Linked DNA regions of Homo sapiens: regions 2, 3, 4 and 5 are each linked to region 1. Evidence: fine-mapped expression QTL. A gene starts in region 1. Each other region holds a variant in brackets. All regions are shown on one strand. Distances are between the middles of the regions.

What was found. PIP is the estimated chance that this variant, and not a neighbour inherited with it, causes the effect.
Region 2: its variant is the best candidate, but not a certain one, in a credible set for the expression of GLB1 in monocytes (Quach 2016, PIP 0.56).
Region 3: its variant is the best candidate, but not a certain one, in a credible set for the expression of GLB1 in fibroblasts (GTEx, PIP 0.54).
Region 4: its variant is the best candidate, but not a certain one, in a credible set for the expression of GLB1 in whole blood (INTERVAL, PIP 0.57).
Region 5: its variant is the best candidate, but not a certain one, in a credible set for the expression of GLB1 in neutrophils (BLUEPRINT, PIP 0.69).

What each region holds. Positions count from the first base shown.
Region 1 is chr3:33,095,096-33,100,198 of GRCh38, forward strand. GLB1 (galactosidase beta 1) reads right to left here and starts at 2,051. Exons shown (of 16, transcript NM_000404.4): 1 at 1,916-2,051. The coding sequence starts at 1,990. TMPPE (transmembrane protein with metallophosphoesterase domain) reads right to left here and starts at 2,051. Exons shown (of 2, transcript NM_001039770.3): 1 at 1,624-2,051. RefSeq lists a silencer at 1,639-2,248.
Region 2 is chr3:33,986,924-33,992,026 of GRCh38, forward strand. No RefSeq gene overlaps it. Among named protein-coding and RNA genes, the nearest start is that of LINC01811, 170 kb to the right of the region's middle. RefSeq lists an enhancer at 1,769-2,371. The variant A/T (reference allele first, on the strand shown) is at 2,638.
Region 3 is chr3:33,003,633-33,008,735 of GRCh38, forward strand. The region is part of intron 15 of GLB1 (galactosidase beta 1); the gene reads right to left. Among named protein-coding and RNA genes, the nearest start is that of CCR4, 55 kb to the left of the region's middle. The variant G/A (reference allele first, on the strand shown) is at 2,159.
Region 4 is chr3:33,043,479-33,048,581 of GRCh38, forward strand. It overlaps GLB1 (galactosidase beta 1), which reads right to left. Exons shown (of 16, transcript NM_000404.4): 10 at 2,642-2,754. Among named protein-coding and RNA genes, the nearest start is that of GLB1, 51 kb to the right of the region's middle. The variant C/T (reference allele first, on the strand shown) is at 2,378.
Region 5 is chr3:33,140,849-33,145,951 of GRCh38, forward strand. CRTAP (cartilage associated protein) reads left to right here. Exons shown (of 7, transcript NM_006371.5): 7 at 1,547-5,103. The coding sequence ends at 1,600. Among named protein-coding and RNA genes, the nearest start is that of CRTAP, 29 kb to the left of the region's middle. The variant G/A (reference allele first, on the strand shown) is at 3,067.

The DNA.
Region 1 (5,103 bases):
AGCTACTCGGGAGGCTGAGGCAGGAGAATCACTTGAACCTGGGAGGTGGAAGTTGTAGTGAGCCAAGATCGTGCCACTGCACTCCAGCCTGGGCAAAAGAGCGAGACTCTGTCTCAAAAAAAAAAAAAAAAAAAAAAAAAGGAATATTCTCTTAATTTCTAGGACAGCTAAAATTTAGTTAAAATTTGAGAACCGCTGGGTCACGAGGTCAGGAGATCGAGACCATCCTGGCTAACATGGTGAAACCCCGTCTCTACTAAAAATACAAAAAAAGAAAAAAATTAGTCGGGTGTGATGGCGGGCGCCTGTAGTCCCAGCTACTCGGGAGGCTGAGGCAGGAGAATGGCGTGAACCCTAAAGAAATGTAAACAAGGAGATAATGGAAAGCTAGACTGCTGGTATCTTTCTTTAGCTGTGGGCACAGAAGCCCAAGAGGGACACCTAGGCACCTGAAATGAGAATTCCTGGGGTGATGCCAGCCTCCCTGTGTGGGCCTCAGGTATGGCAGCCACAGGGCATCCACCCTGACCCAATGACGCTGCACAAGACTGATGAGCTCACATCAGACAGATTGACCCTGTCCACCTGTTCCTGGTTCATAAATCCTTCTCTCTCTCCCTACCCCCACTCCCAGATACTGGTTAAGATCTGCCTTTCCCCTAGCCCCTTACCCTGCCACTGTTCTCCTGAACTGTGCCCCAGTTCCACCTTCCCCAGTGGTTCTCACAGCTGGCTAGCTCTGACTCCTAAGGTCCTACGGGCCTTCTGGACAAGAAAACTCTGTCTACATACTGGGGTAGGGGAACCACAGACGGGGTGAAGAGGGAGCAGCAAATAATCTGTGCTGACTTTTTCCCAAAATGAAAACATTTTCAGCAGCTGTTTTCCAAATACTTAAGATGTTCAATCTTGGTTGTAGATAAATGTACCACTTTTCTCTGCCCTAGGCACGTTATTGAAAGCGTTATTAAAGGGTGTAACTTACAAGTCAACGGTGTCAAATGCTACCAGCTCTTACTTAAAGCATACTGCAGGCTCAGCCCACCTACACCCTGGAGGAACCAAAGTTGGTCCGCGGAACGTGCAGAGGAGCAGCTTGCAACTACCCACTCTCCTTTCCGCAGGTGTGATGCAAACCTCCCCAGGCAGCGCTTTGGAGCCCCTCAGCCAGTCGCCTCAGCTCGGACGCAGCGAGTGAAGCTGTCCTTCCTCTCCCACCAACTGTGCACGCCCCGCACCTCACCTATTCGCCTCGCCAGCCCTGCCCCGATCAACGATGGCATCCCCCGGCAGCCTGCCTATTCCCCCCCTCAACCTGGACCCCCAAACGCCGAAGGAAAACGGTCCCACAAATACAAAGAAAAACCCAAGCCAAAGGGCAGGCGACGGGGAGTGGTGAGAAAGGAACAAGATGCACGAAGAGGGAGAGCACCCAGAGGGGAAATAACCCAATGTTCCCACTGCAAGGGCCTCTCCTGACCCCATTTTTCTCCTTCCGGAGCGCTCCGCAGAGCACCAACTGGGAAAGCGAGGGCGCCCCAAACCAGAGCCGGAGGCACCCTCTAACCCGCGCAACTTGGAATCCCCTCCCGGAAAGCCAACTTAGGAAATGTTTACACGCACCTCGTCTCAACACCTCGTTACAGATGGGGAAGTGGATCCAAGCGCAAAGGGCGGCCGGAGCGGAACGCACAAGCGACCGAGCTGCCTGGAAGGACGCGCGCCCCGCCCGGCCCGCCCCCGACGGGAAGGCCGGTCCACTGCCTGCGTTCCGCCGGCCGCGAGCCTGCTGGGGGGCACTTCGGGGCTCAGGCTCCCCGCCCTGCGGGACCGCGGGTGGCTGCGACCCCAGCCCGGTTCCCCGCCAGCCTGTCCCCTAGCAATGCCTCCCCGTACCCGGGTCCCGCAGACTTACGCGCAAGCCGCGCGTAGGGCCCAGAAGCAGCAGAACCAGCAACAGAGGGAGGATGCGAACCAGGAACCCCGGCATGACCACCAGCCTCCCGGCTCTGCAGTCGGCGCCCAGGCCGGCCGCTTCGCGTCACTTGACTAAGGACCCACGGCCTGGCACCGCCCCTCGTCGGCCCAGCAGCCAGCCCTCGCGCCTGCTCAGCCCCGCGCCCCGCCCCGCTGTGGCCGAGCCGGGCGGGTGGGGGCGGCTAGGAGGCTGCGCGCCGCCGCGTGACTCCAGGATAGTACTATCTGGGTTTTGCAGGCGTCTTCCCTGGGAAGGGACCCTTTGGAACTGCAGTCCGGAGGGCCTGCTTTCAGCAGCTTGATAACGCGCCTCGGGGATTGGACATGAATCATGGTCTCCCTGTTCCCTGGCTGCCTTGAGAGAGCAGAAGAGGGAAATTGTTAATCATTAAACCTAAACGCCCTAGATGGAATCCGCGTCTCATATACGGGCTCTTTGAATAACTCTAAGCCGGGGGTTAGCAAAATGTGGTCGGTCCCTGGAGCCACTGTATCAACTCACCTGGAACTTGTTAGAATGAAAATCCTGCTCACGCCTGTAATCCCAGCACTTTGGGAGGCCGAGGCGGGCGGATCGCCTGAGGTCAGGAGTTCCAGACCAGCCTGACCAGTATGATGAAACCCCGTCTCTACTAAAAATACAAAAATTAGCCGGGCGTGGTGGCAGGCGCCTGTAATCCCAGCTACTGAGGAGGCTGAGACAGGAGAATCGCTTGAACCCGGGAGGTGGAGGTTGCAGTAAACCGAGATCGAGCCATTGCGCTCCAGCCTGGGCAATAAGAGCGAAATTCCGTATCAAAAAAAAATTTTCTTTTTTAAAATAACCTTAGTTTATGCCTTGGTGTTCCAAAAAGCCTTTTTACATTGTATAACAAAGTAGCCAAAATTCTATTTGTTCACTCCTTTCTCCTTTCCTACCGGACATGTCCTTGAGAGATTGAGAAAGTATCAGAAAGGACATTTCATTGAGAGATTGAGAAAGTATCAGTTACTGGCTTTTCTTAGGTTTTTGTTTTTTGGTTTGGGGGGTTGTTTTTTTGTTTTGTTTTTGTGTTTTTTGAGACAGGGTCTCACTCTGTCACCCAGGCTGGAGTGGGGCGCAATCACGGCTTACTGCAGCTTTGGCCTCCTGGGCTCAAGCAATTCTCCCGTCTCAGCCTACCAAGTGGCTGGGACTACAGGCGTGCGCCACCACACCCGGCTAATTTTTGTATTTTTTGTAGAGACAGGGTCTCACCACGTTTCCCAGGCAGGTCTTGAAGTTCTGGGATCAAGCAATCTACCTGCCTGGAACTCCCAAAATGCTGGAATTACAGACATGAGCCACCGTGCCTGGCTTCTTTTCATGCCTGTAGTACCAATTCCGTGTCCTTGCACTGTGAAGTCCTTTCCAAGCTCTGCAATTCTAGTTCAGTATTAAAGAACAAGGGCTCTGGAGGAAGTACACTTGAGTTGGAATTCCAGCTCTGCCACTTACTGTCTGTGTAACTGTGGGCAAATTACTTAACCTCTCTGAGCTTAGTTTCTTTGTTGGTAAAGCAGGGCTAATAATATCAAATTCACTGGATAATTGGGGAAATTACCAGAGATGATGACGATAAGAAGCTTGGTATATACAGGATGTTAGTGGGACAGTTGATGAAATCAGAATTAGACTTGTAGGTTAGATTAGTACCATGCATCAATGTTAATTTCCTTTTTGGGGGGGTGGGGGGACAGAGTCTCACTCTGTCACCCAGGCTGGAGTGCAGTGGCACAATCTCGGCTCACTGCAACCTCCGCCTCCCAGGTTCAAGTGATTCTCCCACCTCAGCCTCCAAAGTAGCTGGGATTACAGGCACCCACCACTAGGCTTGGCTAATTTTTGTATTTTTAGTAGAGATGGGGTATCACCATGTTAGCCAGGCTGGTCTGGAGCTCTTGACCTCAAGTGATTTGCCCACCTCGGCCTCCCAAAGTGCTGGGATTACAGGCATGAGCCACTGTGCCCGGCCGCATCAATGTTAACTTTCTGATTTTGATAATGGTACACGGTCTAAATATTAAATAATAGTTTTGTATTAGTGTATTGATTTGGGTAACGGTAATGGTAATTTTGGTAATGGTTATATAAAAGAACATCCTTGTTTTTTAGGAAACAAAAGGGCATCATCTTTGCAACTGATTCTCAAACAGTTCACAAAAAAAAATGGAGAGAGAGAGAAAGAGAGAGAGAGAGAGGGAGAGAAATGGTATTCCAGGCATGAAAAGAACGTGAGAAAGAAAAGCAAATGTGGTAAAATGTTAACATTTGGAAAATCAATGAAGGAATTATTTTTACTCTTTTTTTCAACTTTTTGTTTCTAAGCCTGAAATTATTGCAGAACGAAGTTTAAAAACAAAACAAAACAAAAATCCTTAACACATGGCAGATTCAACTTCTTCTACCTTCTTTCCTACTCTGTACACTCAGGGTTATCATATGCAATAGGTATTTTTAACTGAACTGAGGTAGAAAGGGTTTAGAGCAGGAGTTGGCAAACTAAGGGCAGAGGATCAAATCTGGCCTGCTGCCTGTTTTTCTTTTTCTTTTTAAAATTCTTTTTACTAAGAATCGGCACAATTTGCTGCCAGTTTTTCTATGGCCTGCCACCTAAAAATGGTTTTTACATTTTTAAATGAATGAAAAAAAATCAAAAGAATAATATTTTATGACATTTGAAAATGTTGTAAGTTTCCTGTGTCAGTGTCCATAAATAAAGTTTTGTGGGGTTGGTTTTTGTTTTTTTTGTTTTGTTTTGTTTTTTTAGACACAGTCTTGCTCTGTCACCCAGGCTGGAGTGCAGTGGTGCAATCATAGCTCACAGCAGCCTTGAACTCCTGAGCTGAAGCAGTCGTCCCATGTCGGCCTCCTGAGTAGCTAAGTAGCTGGGACTACAGGCGAGTGCCACCATGCCTGAATAATTTTTTTTTTTCTAAAGACAAGATCTTGCCTTGTTGCCAGGGTTGGTCTTGAACTCCTGGCCTCAAGTAATCTGCCCACTTTGGCTGCCAAAGTGCCAAGATTACACATAAATAGTTTTCTTAGAACACAGCCACCTATAATCCTCTGCATATTGCATATGGTTGCTTTCACGCTACAACGGT
Region 2 (5,103 bases), 890 kb after region 1:
TGTAATGCCCTCCTTTGTCTTTTTTGATCTTTGTTGGTTTAAAGTTTGTTTTGTCAGACACTAGGATTGCAACTTCTGCTTTTTTTTTGCTTTCCATTTGCTTGGTAAATTTTCCTCCATCCCTTTATTTTGAGCCTATGTGTGTCTTTGCACATGAGATGGGTCTCCTGAATACAGCACACTGGTGGGTCTTGACTCTTTATCCAATTTGCCTGTGTCTTTTAATTGGGGCATTTAGCCCATGTACATTTAAGGTTAGTATTGTTATGTGTGAATTTGATCCTGTCATCATGATGCTATCTACACACTAGTTGATGAAGCTTCTTCATAGTGTCATTGATCTTTATATTTTGGTGTGTTTTTGCGGTGGCTGGCATTGGGTTTTCCTTTCCATATTTAGTGCTTCCTTCAGGAGCTCTTTCAAAGCAGGCCTGGTGATGATGAAATCCCTCAGCATTTGCTTGTCTGGAAACGATTTTATTTCTCCTTTGCCTATGAAGCTTAGTTTGGCTGGATGTGAAATTCTGGGTAGAAAATTCTTTTCATTAAGAATGTTGAAGCCGGGCGCAGTGGCTCACGCTTGTAATCCCAGCACTTTGGGAGGCCGAGGTGGGCGGATCACGAGGTCAGGAGATTGAGACCATGGTGAAACCCTGTCTCTCCTAAAAATACAAAAAATTAGCCGGGCATGGTGGCGGGTGCCTGTAGTCCCAGCTACTTGGAGAGGCTGAGGCAGGAGAATGGCATGAACCCAGGAGGCGGAGCTTGCAGTGAGCCGAGATTGCGCCACTGCACTCCAGCCTGGGCGACAGAGCGAGACTCCATCTCAAAGAAAAAAAAAAAAGAATGTTGAATATTGGCCCCCAATCTCTTCTGGCTTGGGCTTGTAGGGTTTCTGCTAAGATATTTGCTATTAGTCTGGTGGGCTTCCCTTTGCAGGTGACCTGGCCTTTCTCTCTGGCTTCCCTTAACATTTTTTCTCATCATTTTGACCTTGGTGAATCTGGGGATTATGTGTCCTGGGGTTAATCTTCTCATGGAGTCTCTTAGTGGTGTTCTCTGTATTTCCTGAATTTGCATGTTGGCCTCTCTTGCTAGGTGGGAGAAGTTTTCTTGGATAACATCTTGAAGTGTGTTTTCCAGCTTTTTTCCATTCTCCCCATCTTCTTCAGGTACTCCTATCAATCATAGGTTTGATCTTTTTACATAGTCTCATATTTCTTGGAGGCTTTGTCATTCCTTTTCATTCTTTTTTCTCTAATCTTATCTGCATGCCTTATTTCAGCAAGGTTGTCTTCAAACTCTGATATCCTTTCTTTCACTTGGTCAATTCGACTGTTGATACTTATGTATGCTTCACAAAGTTCTCGTGCTGTGTTTTTCACCTCCATCAGGTCATTTGTGTTCCTCTCTAAACTGGTTACTCTAAGTAGCAGCTCCTGTAACCTTTTATTAACGTTCTCAGATTCTTTGCATTGGGTTAGAACATGCTCCTTTAGCTCAGCAGAGTTTTTTTATTACCCATCTTCTGAAGCCTGCTTCTGTCAATCTGTCCATCTCATCCTCCATCCAGTTCTGTGCCCTTGCTGGAGAGGCATTGCGATCATTTGGAGGAGAAGAGGCACTTTGGGTCTTCAGCATTTTTTAATTGATTCTTTCTCATCTTCATGAGTTTGTCTAGTTTTGATCTTTGAGGCTTCTGACCCTTGGTTGGAGTTTTTGTGGGGACTTTTTTTGTTGTTGATGCTGTTGTTGCTTTCTGTTTGTTTTTCTTTCAATGGTCAGGTCCTTCTTCTATAGGGCTGCTGTGGTTTGCTGGGGGTTCATTTCGGGCCCTATTCATCTGGTTGGCTCCTGTGCCTGGAAATGTCACTCAAGGAGGCTGGAAAGCAGCAAAGATGGGTGCCTGCTTCTTCTTCTGGGATCTCTGACCTCGAGAGGCACCAACCTAATGCCAGTAGGATCACTCCTGTGTAGGGTGTCTGACAACTCCTGTTGGAGGGTCTCAGCCAGTTGGGTGGCATGGGGAAGAGGACTTGTTTAATGAAGCACTTTGACTGTCCTTGGAGAGGGTGTGCTTTGTTGGGCGGGGGAGCCCACTCATCTGGGCTGCCCGGATTCCTCAGAACTACCAGGAGGAAAGGCTAAGTCTACTGGTCCGCAGAGACTGCAGCCACCCCTCCCTCTAGGGGCTCAGGCCCAGGGAGATGAGGGTTCTGTCCCTGAGCCTCTGGCTAGAGTTGGAGTTCTTGCAGGGAGGCCCTGCCCAGTGAGGAAGGATGGGTCCGGGTCAGGCCTGAAGAGGTGCTCTGGCTACAGTCTGCACAGTGGTGTGTTGGGCTGTGGGGGACATCTCTTGGGACTAAGCAGTCCAGCTTCCCTGGCTCCAGCAGGGGAAAAGTGTGGCCTGGAACTATAGAGATGGATGCCGCCCTTCCCCCACCCAGGGAGCTTAGTGTGTTAGGCAGTTCTGAGTCTCAGTGCTGGCTGCTGCCCCTCCCACAAAGGAGCTCAAAGGGCTTAGAGAACAGGTAGCTGCAGCTGTGGTGCTGGTCGCCCCTTCCCCTGGGAACTCAGCAGGCTTAAGCAGATTCTAGCTGAGTGGCTGTTGAGAATCTGCATGGCTTTGGGGTTGGG[A/T]CCCAAGGCCCCGGTGGCGTGGGTTTGCGAGTGGGATCTTCTGATTCGTGGGTTGCACAGTTTTGTGGAAAAAGCACTGTTTCCCCAGCTGGGTAGCATGCTCACTCACTGCCTCCCTTGGCTGGGGGGGTGGGGGCTCCTTTGCCCCAAGTGGCTCTCAGGTGGGCTGCTGCACCACACTGCTCTTCCTTCTTCTCCGTGGATCATGCCAGCCACCTAGTCAGTTCTGATGAGAACCTGGATACTTTGGTTGTTGGTGCAGGATTCACATGGTATTATAGTTCTTTTCAAATGGAGCCTATGATCGCTGCTGCTTCTAGTTGGCCATCTTGGCCCCGTCCCCACTCTTTTCCCTCTGTTTGTCCATTGCTGTAATTTCTGGGAGGTTTTCTCAACTTCACTTTCCAAGACTTCTATTGGGGTTTTCATTTCTGTTGTATTATTAATTTCCAAAGGGCTCTGTTTTTCTTCTTTGAATATTTTAAAATACATTCTTTTCTTTTTAATACATATAGTATTTTCTCTGAAGATATTAATGATAGTTTTTAAAAGAGTTTATCTTCTTGCATAGTCTCTACTTTCTCTAATTTTTCCCCTGCATGTTTGTTGTCTTTTTTATTATTCATGTTACAAGCTTTCCTCACAAGGTATCTTGTTAACTTGATCATCTGCTGATAATTAAGAAGAGCATCAAAAAGCTCATTAAAAAAATTCAGATCATATGAGGGGAATATTTTGGGGAATATGGAATCCCTTATAATAGACTTGCTTACTCTGCCTGCTTGGGAATCTCTCCCAAGTGGTACCTGCTTTCCACAGATTCCCTCCTTTCCCCATTTCTGAATCACAGATTATATGCCCCAGATTGTTTTTCAGCAGTTCCAAGATTTTAAAAATTGTTTCTCTTTTGAGAAATTGGTGAATGAAAGCAGCCAGATGCTCCCTGACCACCAAAAGAGTACATACTGTAGGATTCTATTTATATAAAATTCTAGAAAAAGCAAACTAATCCATAGTGTTAGAAAACAGATTAGCAGTTGTCCAATGTCAGGGGAGGAGGAAGAAATGGATTCCAAAAGGGCCTGAGGAAACTATTAGGAGTGATAGAAATGTTCATTGTCTTGATTTTGGTAAAAGCTTAATGAGTATATACATCTGTGAGAACTCATTACATTGTACACTTTAAATATGTGCAGTTTATTGTATATCAATTATACCACAATTAAGTTGTAACAAAAAGAAAGAGAAAAAAAGCTCATTTGAAGTTCTATGTTGCCATTCATGGGTTTCACCATAGTTTGAAGATTGTACCATTTCACTGGGGAAATCCTGATGGCAGTATCTTTAGACCTTCTCTATTAGACTGGCTAGAATCTTGAGAAGGGGTTTAGGTCCGCTGGTTGAAGGATTCAGCTTGACTGACAGTACCCTGGAATGTAAGGTGGGCTGGAGTCTGGGAAAGGGAGAAGAGATTGAATTTCCACATTTAATGAAGGCTTTTTAGTTAATGCTCATGTTTTTGGTACAGTAAGTTTGTCCCTCAATTGTTTCTGGTTTCTCCAATCCAGAGATTTCCACTTTTATCCTCTTTGGAGGATTGATTCTTAATGTATGGTTTGTGGACCCCTAGGGGGTCCCTGAGACTTTTTCAGGGGGTCAGCAAGATGATAGCTGTTTTTATAATAACACCAAGACTGTATTTGCCCCTTCCATTCTCATTCAGGTGTGTACAGTGAAGTTTTTCAGAGGCTACATGATGTGTGATATCATAAGAGATTGAATGCAGAAGCAGACAGTAGATTGGCTATCTTCTATTAAGCCAGTTATTAATGAGATTTGAAAAATATAAAATAATGCCACTCTTCTAGCTAAAGTTTTTCTGATTTGGAAAATAAAGTTGTTTTTCAGAAAATATTTATGTTAATGTGGAATGGGTTTATTATTTTTATTTTTGAAGTGAATTAATAAATGAATATTTTAAATACTTCAGTTTTAATTTATCCTATGACAAATATCAGTATTTGTAATCATCATAAACTAAAGCTCTTTGGGGTCCTCAGTGATTCTGAAGACTGTAAAATAGGCCTGAGACTAAAAATTTGAGAACTGTTGCTCTAAAGTATAAACATCCAGAGTTGGGTGAGGGTGGATATAGTCTCCAGGTTAGATGAAATTGGGGAGGGATCCAAGGGCTCTAACTTCTTTTTGAACAAGAAACCCTTTGCTTCTTTTCTCTCCTTTATCCCTTTCTCTCAGAGGTTCCTGATAGCATAGATAGCAAAGCCGAGAGGCAGACAGAGCTTGTGTCCCTGAAGACATTAAGCTGATGAATCAGCCAGCTCTGAAGGCTGATCTACCTCTGGAGATGCTTCCTGTTATACAAGATAATACATTTTGTTTGGTTGAGGTGGTTGTTAATTTCAGCTGAAAACATAATGGAAGCCAAGAAGGGAGTGTGTTTCAGGA
Region 3 (5,103 bases), 91 kb before region 1:
TTAACAAGCACATCAAATTTAGGATGAAAGTAGGGTCCAATAGTGTTAAGACCTGTGGGATATTGAACAGATGGCCCCAATTATTAGTGGGTCCCTCTATCAAGAAGTAGAATCTGTCTGGGCATGGTGGCTCACTCCTGTAATCCCAGCACTTTGGGAGGCCAAGGTGGGTGGATCACCTGAGGTCAGGAGTTCCAGACCAGCCTGGCCTACATGGTGAAACCCCATCTCTACTAAAAATACAAAAATCAGCCAGGTATGGTGGTGTGCACCTGTAATCCCAGCTACTCAGGAGGCTGAGGCAGGAGAATCGCTTGAACCTGGGAGGCGGAGGTTGCAATGAGCTGAGATCGTGTCGCTGCACTCCAGCTTGGGCAACAGAGTGAGACTCCATTTCAAAAAAAAAAAGGGGTAGAACATGTTTCTCCATTCCTTGGATCTGGCTGGTCTAGTGACATATTTTGGCCAAACAACGTGGAAGAAGTGACATGTGAATCCTGACTTTGGCCTTAAGGAGCCTTGCGCATTTGCATTCTTTCTTTGAACCCTGCTCAGTCGTGTGAACCCTGCTAGTCATGTGAACAAGCCTAGGCTAGCTTGCTGGATGATGAAAGAGAGATGGTCTCATCTTCTCTGTTGCCTCAGCTGACAGATGGCTAACACCCAGGTGGTCATGCCCAGCTGAGACCAGCAAAACCACTACTTGGTCTGCCAATACTCAAAATCGTGAACTAAATAAACTGTTGTCGTTTTAATCCACTAAGTTTTGGGTGGCTCGTTATGCAGCAGAAGCTAACTGATACACATCTCCATGGTCAGAAGGTGCCTAAGCATGCTACTTTTCAGGAAAGTGAGTGACGTTTAAAAACTCAATTTAAAAATAGTAGAGCCATCCACTACTTAGTCAGTCCCACTTTCACTGATCAATCACCAAATCCCACTGGGGCTTCCTCAGCCATGTCTGTGCCTTTCTCAGGATTGCTGAGAACAGCTGGGTGAGAAGACACCTGTGAGCACTCAGTACTGTAGCCAGCACATGGTAAGCTCTCAGATGTGGCTGGTACTATTACTATTTCCTGAAGCTGGACCGCCCTCCCTCCCTACTGCCACACTCAAGTCCAGCTCTGTTCCTTCTCTCTGGACCACTTCTCCAGCAGAAGAGTAGCTTTCAGGGGTAACAGGGAGAGAGTTCTGTTTTATACCTATCAGGCTGGAGGTGCCTATGAGACCCCCAAAGGTGGGCTCCAGAGCCTTGTAAGAGCTGAGCTGGAAAAGGAAATGTAAGCATGTCCAGCACATCTGTGAGGACAATCCCCAAAAGTGTAAGAAGAGAGCCCAGGACCAAGTCCTGAGGACTGCAACATAGAAGCTGACAGAGAAGCCTGAGAAGGAGCAAAGAGAGGGAAGAAAACCAGGAGAAGTTTGGGCACGCAAGTCAGGAGAAGCAATCCCCCCACCTCTCACCAAGTAGCTGGGACTGCAGGTGCCATCATGCCCTTGTAACTATCCTATGGTTATCTAGGGGCTCCATCCTAAGTCGCCTCATTAGCACAAACCCAGGTGGGATTGAAAGAGGCTAGTTATGAATAACAAAAGACACTCCTACCACTCAGAAAATTCCAAGGGTTTTAGGGCCCTGGAACCAGGGACAAAGACCAAATATATTTCTTACTATACTATTCCCTTGAAAAATATCAATCCCTCTGCACAAAATATCCTTCCCACTAGGAAGACCAGACCTTTCCCAGCAATCTTAAGCACTTATAATTTCTTCCTCTCCAAGGCCCAACTGCATGGTTTACATATCTCTTACAGACTCTTATAATCCTCTTGGGCTCTTTCTATACCTCTGTCTCTCCAAATGGATTGAGACCAAGTGACTAACACTGATAAGGTTTTAAAAGTTTTACATACTCTTTTCTGGCATAATCATGTCTCAGTGCAGCCTTGATTTGCTGGGCTCAAGCAATCCTCCCATCTCCCACCAAGTAGCTGGGACTACAGGTGCATGCCACCAAGCCCAGCTAATTCAAAAATTTTTTTTGTAGAGATGAGGTCTTATTAAGTTGCCTAGGCTGGTCTCAAACCCCTGAGCTCAAGTGATCCTACCACCTCGGTCTCCCAAAGGGCTAGGATTACAGGTGTGAGCCATCGCGTC[G/A]GCCAGGAAATTTCAAAAGCAAGATGCAACAAACAGTTAAAAGAAGGAATTTCTTTCAACCGTTTATCATACATTGTTTTATTTCATAGTTATTTTACATCTTGAAGGTGGGACAATTTATCTTTAAAATACAGAATTACTTTTCATCAGTATTCTATTTTGATTCTTGACTCTTCAAAGCATAATTTTGGTTAAGGAAAAATGGACACTATCCCACTCACACCATGCTCTGTCATGCACCTAAACCTACCACAAAATGTTGAAGGCTGCATAGGATATTGACAGGAGACTTATCCACACCCAGCTGAAAGAGAGATAAATAGCACAAGCACTGCTGCAGTGGCAGAACATGACATTTCAGGTTTGGCATATAGCAGGGGTCCCCAAACCCCAGGCCACAGACTGGTCTGCGGCCTGTTAGGAACCGGGCCGCACAGTGAGAGGTGAGCGAGCATTACTGCCTGAGCGCCACCTCCTGTCAGATCGGCAGCAGCATCAGATTCTCATAGGAGCAGGAACCCTATTGTGAACTGCGCACGCGAGGGATATAGGCTGTGCACTCCTTATGAGAATCTAACTAATGCCTGATGATTTGAGGTGGAACAGTTTCATCCCAAAACCATTTCCACCCCCCCACCCCTGACCACACAGTCCATGGAAACAGTGTCTTCCACGAAACTAGTCCCTGATACCAACAAGGTTGGGGACCACTGGCATACAGGACATATTGTGGAAAGCACTGGAGAAGAACGCTTCCTATCTAATGGACTTTCCAGTCAGATAAGAACTCAGTGAGGTCAAAGCATTGCCCTGTGTCTGCTGGACAGAGCAGAACATGCCTGACCCCTTTCTACTGAAGTCCCAGTTGATATTCATTCACATCTGGCATTAACCAGAAAGCCACATCCGACTCAAGTAAAGCCAGTGTAAACAAAAGTGATTTTTTAATCTTATGAATCGCCCTTATCAGTGACTTTGCTCTCTAAATCAAGGTAGTTTCTTTACAGTAAAATGAATAGGAAGAGCATAGAGTCCTGTGCCAGGGCCTTTGACAAGGGCCTCTCCTGATGAAGGATGTGGGGGTTAGTGCACAGCCTTAGAAACAGCTGGGGCTTCAGGGATCATTTTGTCCAACCCCACACCGCAACTGCCAGCTCCCTGCATTCAAACCATGTGCTAACGTGCTCATTCTTTCAAATGTCAGAGCTTAGCACTCAGTGTGGGAGTGGGATCTGCCTGTTCTGAGGTGGCTGATCATTTAGAAGCCCCAGAGCTGGCCTGGGACTGTCCCCAGCAGCAGGGACCACTGTGCACCAGAAAACAGAAACCACATTGGTTCTGTGTTAGGTAGGATGTGTGTGTACCCTTGGACCTTCACACGCATTCAGTCCAAAGTCCACAAACTTCTTGGATGGGCCTTGTGTGTGGCACTTTATTGACATAGAATTCATATACCATACAATTCAGCAGTCTTTAGTATACTACAGAGCTGCACAACCATTACCAAAGTCAATTATAGAACATTTCGTCACTCCGTTAAGAAGCCCTGTACCCTTTAACATTCTCTTCCCATCCAACCAACACTCTCTTTTCCCTGCTCTAGGCAATCACAGATCTTCCTGTCTATATGAATTTGCCTGTTCCGGACATTTCATGTAAATGGAATCATGCAACATACAGTCCTTTGTGACTGGCGTCTTTCATTAGCCTAATGTTTTCAAAATTCTTCCATGTTGTAACATGTATCAATACTTCATTTCTTTTTATTGCTGAATCATATTCCATTGTATGGATGTACTACATTTCGTTTATTCATTCCTCAGCTGATGGACATTTGGGCTGTTTCCACCTTTTGGCAATTATGGATAACGGTGCAATGAACAGTTGTGTACAAGTGTTTGAGTGGACATATGGATTAGATGGGCTTTTGGGGGTCTGAACCCTTTGACACATTCACAAATACTGTGTGGAGATGTACTTTCAAGCCTGGAGATGCAGAGCATTCATCAGACTGACCAAATAAGTAAAGAGCCCCAGCCTAGATAATGAGTATGAGTTCCTCACCGGTTCTCAATGCTGCCTGCTTTTTCACATGGGCCTTCAAGACACGGCTGGGGCTCAGGTAGATGTGCCACTGAGCACTTCTGTACCTCGTACAAGTTACTTAGCTATCTAAGCCTCCAGCTACTCATCTGCAAACTGGAGATAATGATCCATCTACCACAGGTGCCTCTTTTGATGGCTACGGAGATAGTGTCTATAAAGCGTTGAGCAGAACGCCTGGGTCAGTAACTCTTGCGTGTGACACCTTTAAGACTTGGCCAAGATGAACCTCCCTCTGACCTCCAACACATCCCACACTTTTCCATTGGTCTCTACTGCATTAGGAGGGGAGAAAAAGAGGGATCGAGGGAACAAGAACTTGCTAGCTAAAGGGGGAAGATCCAGGGAGGGCTTTCTTTGTGTTTAGGTCCTAGAGCTCCTAGTTACCACTTTTTGGCTGAAAAATGGGACTCGGCAGAAAGATGGAGAGGCTGACAAAATGCAGGTAGAGGAAATATGAGAACAGGATCTTGCCCTGAAGGAAGAAGGTGGGGAGGAGATTCAGAATTCAGACTTCCTCCTAGATACCACTGGGCAGGAAATGAGGTTGGAGGCAGAGAGATAAGTCTGACAGGAAGCTGAGGGAACAAAGGAGTTACACCTGATAGCAGTCAAGGAGGATGAGGTCTTCAGTGGAGAGGGTGGAGAGTCAGGTGGCTTAAGGAGGGTGCTGAAGGTTGAAAAGGCCAGTGGGGGAAAGGAGCAGAGAGAGACCAAGGACTGCTGGGCAAATCTGAGGGCTTCTGGAGGCTGGCAACAATGAGGGGATGGTAGCCACGATGAATGCGCTGAGAAGTCCCTTAGCTGTGCTCAGTGACTGGTGAACCAGCAGAGACACCAGT
Region 4 (5,103 bases), 52 kb before region 1:
GGGGGAAAGAAATAAGAGGAAAAAACAAAACAAAACAAAAAACCTCAATCTAAAAGAAAGCAATAAAGGGAAAGAAAGAGCCAAAAAGGTAAACGAATAGAAATTATAAAATAAGATAATTGAAATTCATCTATGTATATCAAGAAGTACAATGAATGAGAATGTATAAATATATCAGTTAAAAGACAAGAAATTTCAAACTAGATATTTTAAAAATTCGATTATATCCTGTTTATAAGGGACACATGTAAACAGAACAAAGGATATAAAAAGGATGAAATTACAGCATTGGGAAAGATACCTCAGAAAAATACCAAGCAAAAGTATGCAGGTAAATGGTGTTAATGAATAACAGACCAAAAAAAGAAAAAAAAAAAAAAAAAAGGCTTCCAGGCAAAAAGCCTTATTAGAAATAGAGGGTTATATAATCCCTTTACTATTAAGTACTGAAGGATGTAATTCTCAATTTGCCCACCTAATAACATAACCTCAGAACTGGCAGAGCTACAAAGGGAAATACATGAGGACAACTCTCACTAAATAGTAGACTGAACTGACAAAAAATTAGGAAGCAGATCAAAGATATCAATGGCACCATTAATAAACTTAATCTGATGAACATGTATGTAGAATATAGTCAACAACTGTAAAATATACTTTCTTTTTATGCGCACATTGACCATTAATATTGGTGTATGTCAGGCTCTAAGACTAGGCTCAGCAGCTTTCAAGGGATTGGTATCACAGACTATATTCTCTAACCAGAATGCAAAAAGACTAGAAATCAAAAAAACAGGAAAGTACTTATTTCCAGTAATTTAAAAAACACATATCAATGGTGAAGAGAAATCAAAATAGATATGTTTAGAAGCAAACAGTAAGAAATAGATTGCACATCAAAACTTACGAGATAAAGCCACAGCAGTACTTGAAGGAAATTTATAACCTTAAATATTTATATTAGAAAAGAAGAAAGGCTGCATTAAAAAGCTAAGCTTCAAATAAAGGAAGGAAATAATAAAGATAGGAACAGAAAGCTTCAAAACAGAACAAACATACAAGGGAGAGCTTGGGAGACATTACTATAAATTCTGTGGAGATTAAACCCATAATAAAGGAATAACATAAGCAACATTTTAACAATACATTTGAAAATTTAGATGAAATGGACAAATTATAAGTGTGGTAAGTCTAGATTGTATTTTTTATATTTAAAAAATTTGTAATATTCATTTTAACACATGCTTAAAATTAAAACGACATCATACTTAAAACAAAAAAAACCATACCATTTATAGGCAGAAAACCTTTGTTTTTTTAACTTCAAAACTCAGGTGACTGAGCATAAAAACTGTGGGTTTTTTCTTTTAACCCACAGCAGAGACAGGAAACCCCACCTAGGTGCATTAGGTGCCTCAAAAGGGTACAACGCTAGCAGGACTAAGCAGTTCAGATGCAGTCCAGAAACAGCAATCACTTGCTCCAAATAGAAAAATGAAGCTTCACTGACAGCTGACATCTGCACCATGCTTCACAGTATCTGAAGATTTTTTTTCCTATGTACATCAGCTATTTAAGTAGACACACATTTTCTTACATTTAAGATAAATAATAGTTAACGGCTACCACTTATTAGACATATATGTGTCAGGAACTGTCCTGGATGGCTTACATACGTTCTTTTCAAGCTTTACAGCACAACCAGATGCTGTAATCCCAGTTTTACAAATTAACAATCAGTAGACTGATTTGCTCATAGACTCACTCTTTTTTTTTTTTAGGTAAATAAATAATTATTGTTCATTTATTTGACTATGAAAGAAGAAAACAAACATTTATTGAGTGCCATTTATTTTTAAACTGTACAAGTCTGTGAGGTAAGTACGGCTACCTCTACTTTTATATAAAGGGAATTTACACAATTGGCTTAAGGTTGAAGAAATAGTGTCCAGGTTCAAAATCTGGTGTTCCTCATTCTGAAATCACATAGTCTGTATATTGGGCCACACATAAAAAGGAAAATAGTTTATCTTCTTCTCTCTTGCAAATAAGGACGGAGTTATTTTCTAGTGAGAAATAATTCTTATACACTTTGGTTACTGGAAACTTACTTTTTTCAGATGATGCATTAAATAAAGAAACCAGAGCTTAGCTTTACCTCTTTTGATATTGAAGTACATTAGCTGTGTCTCAAGGATAGGGGCTCCCATATATCCATGCTGCCTTAATAGGGGCTATAGTCTCAAGAGGATCTGTGCATTCTCTCCCATCACCCTACCTCTCACCTGAACTTTTGGAAAGATAATCTGGCCTGGAAGGAGAAGAAAATGGAGACAGAAATTTCCCCGGGTGAATTCTCACCATATAAGAAGTGAAT[C/T]TGTAAGTAGCATTTAACACTGTATTATATATTGCAGTTTTTAAATACATGTCTTATATCTCCTACTCTCCTATAAGCATCTGCTCATAGACTCACTCTTAACCACGTGGGTACAAGATGCAAACCCAAGTCTAGCTGATGCCTCCCTTCATCCATCCTTTTAAACAGGAGGGCTCCAGGCAGGAAGTTGTCCACAGAGCCACAGTGAGTTCAAAAGAGGCTCTGTCCAAGATCAGCCCACCACAGCTCATACAAAGCACCCACCTTCTGGATGATGTTTCGCAGAGCAAAATACTTCTCAGTGAGGTCCCCAGCCTCACTCAGTGGGGCATCATAGTCGTAGCTGGTGGGCTGTGCTGCATAGGGTGAGTTGGCCCCTAGAAGACAAAAATGTGCCACTAGTTATTACTGATGGTGCAGCTCTGGGACAAGTTCTTTGGGATCCATGAGCTCAGCACTGTAGAGAGAGAAAACTAGAAGACACATTAAAACCACTTGTTGGGAGACACAGACGTGACCCTCAGGATGCAACGTTTAGAGGAAGGAATTTCTTTCTACAGGTAGCAGTTACCAGGCACCTTAGAGTTTACCAAGGACTCTTTCCATCCACTCTCTACAGAAGCTCACAGCTGTGATTCTAGCAGGTATCACCCCCACTGGACAAGCAGGGAATCTGAAGCTCCCCACAAAAATCTGCTAACACCTCACAAGCAGTAATGGCAGGGCTTATGATATGACCCCCATCTCTGACTGTTAATCCTGTCAACTCTGAACTTTTTCACGTCCTCAAGCTGTGGCTGAGAAAAGCTCAGTGGTGAAGACACAGATGACTAGGCCATGGATCAGCAGAAAACCCAGGGCTTATTAAACCAAACACAGCGGGAGATGACAGCAGACCCACATCAGCCACAGAGGTTCAAACATAATCCGAGGGCCTTTGTTGCATCTACAAAGACTGTCGATGGGGCTGTGGTGCACCTCTTGGATCCCCCTTTAGAACCAGGGCACTCACTCATTCTCCCAGCAGCTAGGGCTGTTGTCTGCTGACATTTCTCAGATGTGTCCGTCTCTGGGTGCTGGCCTGTGCTGAGCTGCCTCACCCAAGGTTACAACCCTCAGGGATAGCCCACATCCAACAACTGACCAATGTGCCTCGAACAGCCAACCCAGCTGCAGAGCTCCCTCTAAGATTGGATGAGGCCACTTGTGAAGCTGCATCATAGCCCCACTTCTCCCTCTCTATCCTACAGGCATTGCTCCAGAGAGCACAATCAATAAGCTTTCTACCAGGTAATCTCAGAGTCTGTTTCCCTGGGAACTTGACCTACAACAAAGACCAATGGATAATGCCAACACTGAGTATACAAAAGGACTAGAAAAACAAATGCCCCTGCAGTCACTGTGCAAGGGGCGGGGTCTAGACCAGAGGATCCCGACCTTGTCAGGGATGATGTTCACAGGTATGAGGTTGTCTGCAACATTGGGTGGTACTTCAAAAACTTACCCATGCTTAAGTGTCACATGGAGAGCTTGTTAAAACAGATTCCTAAGCCCCATCCCAGAGATTCTAATTCAGCAGGTCTGGAGTGGGGCCTGAAACTGCATTTCTAACAGGTGTCCAGGTGACGCTGATGCTGCCATCCATAGACCAGCAAGGCTTTGTGCCTTCCTCCTCTACTTCAGAGAGCATATTGCAATGCAAGTGTGTGAGAATGAAGTTATTTTAGGAATAGTCTTTTGTCCAACCTAATTTGTACATCAATGAGGCACAAAACATGATAGTTTACCTAGGATTAGTAATAAATTCCTTGGATGCAGCTCACCAATGATGGAGCCACCTTGGGTGACCTACTGGTTGTGGAGGTGACAGATGAGCAAGGCTGAGGATCAGATCAAGCAGGTCAGCTCCAAAGACTTTTTCATTAGTTCTCTGCACAGAATCTAAACTTTGAAAGATCTGGACCACTCAACCAACTGAACTGATCTAGTCATACCATTTCCCCCATTTCTTATTAATCAGAGACAACTCACAGCCAACAGGTCTGCCTGCCTTAAGGGATTCATAGGTTAAAACACATCCCTTCCTGTGAGACACAAAGAAAAAAAAAAACCCACATCCGTTGCTGCAAGGAACTCACCTTCTTTGTGGCCCTCGTCTGCTTCTAATGTGGTAGTCACCCATGCTGTGCTGTGTTTCTTATTTGTTATGTCTCTCTCCATGCTACACTGCTTGCACCTCAGGGGCAGAGACTGTGCCTCACTTGCCCTTGAGTCCTTAGCCAGAGCCCAGCATGGAGGGGGTTGCCAGGTTGAGTTGGGAAAGTGTGACCTCTAGAAGCACACTTTACAGGCCGAGGGAGCCCAGGCTGGGAAGCTGTCCAGTGGGTTTAAGGATGGATTGGAAGACTAAGTATTTGTTCTAGTTCTACTGGCAGAATCTTACTTTGGGTGTTTTTAGACCACCAAAGGGCAGCATCGCAGAGAAATGGTGCAGATTCAAGCCTCCTCTGGCCACTTAAGAGGGTGTGAGGTGGGAAGGTGAAAGAAATGGTGAGACTTTGCATTCATCAACATTCCACATTGTGTGAGAAGTACAGGAGCGCCTGGACCCTGTAGGCAGCCATCACACAGCTGTGGACACACACAGGTGTGGAGGAAGGAGACACACACCTGCACAGGCAGGTGCATGTTCCTGTGGGTGGGATGGGCAGTGAACTCCCCACTCC
Region 5 (5,103 bases), 46 kb after region 1:
CTGGAGTCAAGCTTCGCCTGCTCCCATGGGGGACTCTGGAGCATGAATTGCACCACAGAGTTGTTCTTGCCTTTTGTAGTCCCCCTTATCAGTCTGTCATTCGTTCTTCGTTGCCAGGAAGGGCTGGTGTGTAACCTCCCTGTCAAGACTGCTGTTTTTTTTTGTTTTTGTTTTTGTTTTTGGCCAAAGGCAATTGCCCAGAGAAGGGGCAGCTGCTAGCCATTAGCAAGCAGCCCTCACAGGAGTTGGGGATGAGTGCACTGGGAAGGAGATCTGAGTGAGGCCCCAACAGTATTCACTACAACAGCCATGCAGGGGATGCATTTCTTTCGTCTGTGCTGCCTCGGGCACTTATTACTAGTGAGCTAAAAGCAAACAATACCATCATCCCGCAAGTCACAACAGACACACAGCAGGATATAGTAACTCCCTAAGCAGAAGTCATAGCTATACACATAATCCCTCTACTATGCTGTGTTTTCCTTTTGGGGTCTAGAAAGCAACTGAAAAACAATTTTTCCAAGCTGTAGTGTCTACAGTTTGAGTTTCTAATCTCAGGCATGACATAGTAGAAGTATTTGATGATAATACTAAGACCCCCCATTTGTGTCTCATGTACTTGATAGGTTTTCCAGTTATTCCCAAATGCTGCAAGATTTTTATAAATTTCTCTGTGTTAAAACATCAAAAGGAGCCAACAGGCTCTTGGCCTGGGATGGTGAGCTCAGTGAAGGAGGTCGAGTTTTAGCAGGGTTGGTGGGGCCAGTCTGTGTTGACTCTTATGGAAGGGGCCTCAGCCTTGGTCATTCACTCATTCTCTGCAGAAAAGAGAATGGGTGTCATCAGCTGGTGGTCCAGGAGGGTTATAGAAGAGAAGTCAATGTGGAGAAAGAAATTGGGAAGGGTGCTGGGCTGCTTCAAGTTGAAGTATAAGGCTGATTGCAGAAGGAGGGAGCAGGTGAGCTCCTGGTACCGACACTGGGCAAGTGGATCCCACTATCCCTGTGTGTCTCTCCTGTAAGAGGAGTGATTGCTTCAGTCACACCAGCAGTATGTATGCAAGCACTCAATCATTCATCCTTCAACACATGTATTGAGCACCTTCTGTGTGCTGGACTCTGGGGAAGAAAAATCAACCCAGTCCCCTGGTCCTTGAGAAGTTTGGGTTCTGGTGGTCAAGGCAGAAAGGGAACAGATAGAAAATGTTCCTGTGGGAGACCTGCACACATGAGAGGGGAGGAAGGGGAGTAGGCAGAGATGCACACAGGAGGGCCACTTAGTAGAGCTGTTCACAGGCTGGGCTGTCCGCCTCACACAGCATGTTGGCGGATCTCGCAGAGCACTTGATACCAAGTTCAAATGGAGTGGAAGCCGAGGTCCCCTCCACAGGGAGAAATCAGGTCCTCTGGGCCCCAGACCAGCAGAAAAAACCTGTTTCAGCCAAAGCAGACAGTGGTGATGGCCTCTCGGGATACTGTTTCTGCTCATCAGTACTTTTAAAAGTCCAATAGCCCATTTAATAAAGTTGTCCTGTTGTCTCTTACAGGGAGAAGTTGTGGAATATGTGGATGACCTCTTGGAACTGGAGGAGACCAGCTAGCCCACAGCAACCAAAGAGACTTCCTCTTGGCGTTCAGGAAACACAGATTCTTTGTCCTTTTCCCAACAGCCCAGGCTGTTGATACCTCAGAGCCTTCTCTTTACTCTCCAAAGTGAAAGGGAAGCCCCCGTCTCTCTAACTGCATGTCATCAGGGGTGAGCCTGCCTTTCCTATCTTCACACCTGCCACCTCATGTTCACACCTATCTTTCTCACCTTTTTTTTGAGATGGAGTCTCGCTCTCTTGCCCAGGCTGGAGTGCAATGGCACGTTCTCAGCTCACTGCAACCTCCGCCTCTTGGGTTCAAGCAATTCTGCTGCATCAGCCTCCCGAGTACCTGGGATTACAGGCATGTGCCACCACGCCCGGCTAATTTTGTATTTTTAGTAGAGACGGGGTTTTGCCATGTTGGCCAGGCTGGTCTCGAACTCTTGACTTCAGATGATCCATCTGCCTTGGCCTCCCACAGTGCTGGGATTACAGGCGTGAGCCACCATGCCCGGCCTCTTTCTCACCTTTACACCTGTCTTCTTATCCTCACATCTGTTTTCACACCTTCATCCCTGTCTTCCTCATGTTCACACTTGTCTTCCCCATGTTCATAGCTGCCTTTCTTACCATTTTGGTTTGAAGGGCAGTCTTCTCTGGCTTGTTTTTTTGTTTTTCCCAGAAAATCAGTATTATTTTTTAAATAAGAAAAACATTCCTAGAAGATGATAATTGTGAAAACCTCCTTTGGCTTATTTGCTTTTCCAGATTTTAGTCTCCTTTCTCCCCATCCGGGAAAGATGGTGGAAGACATAGGCTAAATTTCTCCAGCCTCACAATGGTCTTCACTTGGTCTGACTTGTACCAATTCTAGCACCCACTGAAAAACAAGTTGAGTAGAGAGTGTAGAGTGCAGAAATGTGGCTTTTGCCCCACTTTGCATCTCCAAAATTACAACGGTTGGCCGATCCCATTTGAGGACAATGCTTAGTTATAAGTCTCCGAGTTGGAAAAGGAAGAAAGCCAGAGCTGTCTAGTTTCATTCATTCTTTCAGTAAATATTTATTGAGTACCTACTGTGTGCTAGGCATTGACCTGGGAACTAGAGATACTTCACAGAATAACAGGGAAAGTTCCCTGTGCTCATGGAGCTTACATTCTACAGGGAGAAAGAGATAGCCAATACATAGGAATAAATATATACAAGGTATCATGTAGTGATAATTGCTGTGGAGAAAAATAAAGCAGGGGAGGGAGTAAGAAATCCTGGAGATGAGGCTGCAGTTTTAAATGGGGCCTCACTGGGAATGTGACGTTGAGCAGAGACGTTAGGGAAGTGGATCCTGGACAAGGCATTCCAGGCAGAGGAACAGGATGTGCACTGCCCCAAAGTGAGAACTTGCTCTACGTGGTCAGGAAAGAGCAGGGAGACCAAGCAGAGTCGTGGGCAGGGGTAGAATGGAAGGAGAGGCGGCTGG[G/A]GAGGACAGGTGGTGGAGGGCCTTGGCTTCTGCTAAGTGAGATGGGAACCACTGGAGGGTTTGAACAGAGGAGTGCCTTGATTGATTTATATTTTGCAAGGGTCATTCTAGCTGCCATATTGTGAAAAACTTTAGTGGACAAGGGCAGAAGGAAGAGGGAAGACCTGTTAGGAAGCTACTGCAAGGTTCCAGGCTTGGGCCTGGGCCACAGCAACAGCAGTGGTCAAATATCTAGATTTATTTTGAAAAGAGCCAATAGGATTTGCTGAGAGTTTGAATGTGGAGTGTAAGAGAAGGAAGAGTTAATGATGACATTAAGGTTTTTGGCCTGAATAGCAGGAAAGATGGAGTTACCAGTTACTGAAATAGGGAAGGATGGGCTGGGTAAGTATGGAATTTGGTGCAAAGCAGGCTGTCTGTGGTTGGAATGGGAGGTTCTGGCTGCAAATCAAAGTGGAGAGTTCTCTCAGGTCAGGTCTGCAGCAGAGCTCGAGACAGGGATCTGAATGCACTTGGTTTATTGTTGGGGGTGCTCTCAGAAGGAACCTGTGAAAGCCTTTATCAGTCATTTATTGGCTGTGAGAAGTTCTCTGGGAGTGTGGGTACATTTGAAGGCAAGTGACTTCAGTTGAGGGCAAGTCTCTGGAAAAGAGGCTGTAGGCATCTGGCAGCTACCATGCATGGTAGTGTGTTGGGGGTGGGGGTCCTGGGCACTGGCTGTGTGAAGGGATCTGGCAGGGCACCACAGCGCCCCCTACTGAACCATCAGCATGTCAGTGGCATTTAAAGCCATGCAGCTGGAGGGGCCACTGAGATTGTCTCTGAGTATTACTGAGAAGCAACAGAAAAGAGCCATGGATGGAGCCCTTGGGCTCTCTGGGAAATGGGAAATCAGCCAAAGGACTGAGAAGGAGTTACCTTAAGGTCAGAGAAAACCAAGAGAGTGTGGTGTTCTGGAAGCTGAGCTTTCTTTATTCAACCTCATTCCCTTCTCCAAATAAGCCACTTGTGTAGTTGGGCCCCTCCAGGGTTGAAGGCAAGAGGAGAAAGGCACAGCGTTTGGGAAACAAGACTTTTCCTGCAATAGCCTGGGAAGGAATAAAAGGATAGAGTGTTTGGGTTTTTGTGTAATGGTGGTTAATTGGGGTGGAACACTCACACGTTGTGCTTTTTCTGGGCTTCCCTTATCCCCCAGAACACTCTACCAACCTCGGGGAACTCGGGCACATCCTTCTGTTTCTCCTTCAGCTCTATCCTGCTTTCCTCATCCCTTCTGACACCACGTCCTCACTCACCTGCACAAGAATCCCTGCATCAGGTTCTCCTTTGAGGGTACCCACCCAGGACAGTCCCCTACCACTTCTGTCTTGGGCTGAAGTTGCCCACGTCCACAAAATCTGTACTCCCAGCGGGGGTGTTTGGCCCGAGGAGTCAGTGTTATTACTGGTGGATGCACCGTGTCCACAGCAGCCCCCAATCCCAGCGATGCGTCAGATCTTACGTGGCTTCCTGCTGGGGGAGATGGCCTTCACCCACGGGATGCCGGGTTCTCCTTTCTTTCCTCACCCCAACCTTTACTCCACCAGAGAAACTTCCTTTTGAACTCAGTGGGGAAGAGGGTGATGAGACAGGACTAGAAAGTAGTGGGGGACCCAGCGAGTGGACGCCCTGCTCCGGGATTCCTGAGTCTGTAAATAGTGTGCCCAGCAGCTGTGAACTCCCCTTATAGCCTCAGGCTGCAGTGTCCTTCCCAGCTGTGTGAGAAAATGAAAGCCGACGTCCACAGGGACCCAGGCAGGGTTGGGTGTTGTGACTCACTCCACCTCTGTGCCCTGCAGAGGTACTGTTGGGTCCTTGTCTTGTGAGCCTGGGGTGAGCTCTCTGTACATGTTGTTGTTCCACGTATGGGTTGACTTGGCATGCTGGGGGGTCCTCGTTCACTCTCTGAAGTTGGCCTCCTTTCACTGGGGATTGAAAAGCACCTCCACCCCTACCCTAGTGATGTCCCCTGAGGACCCGGGTGATAGTACAGTCAAT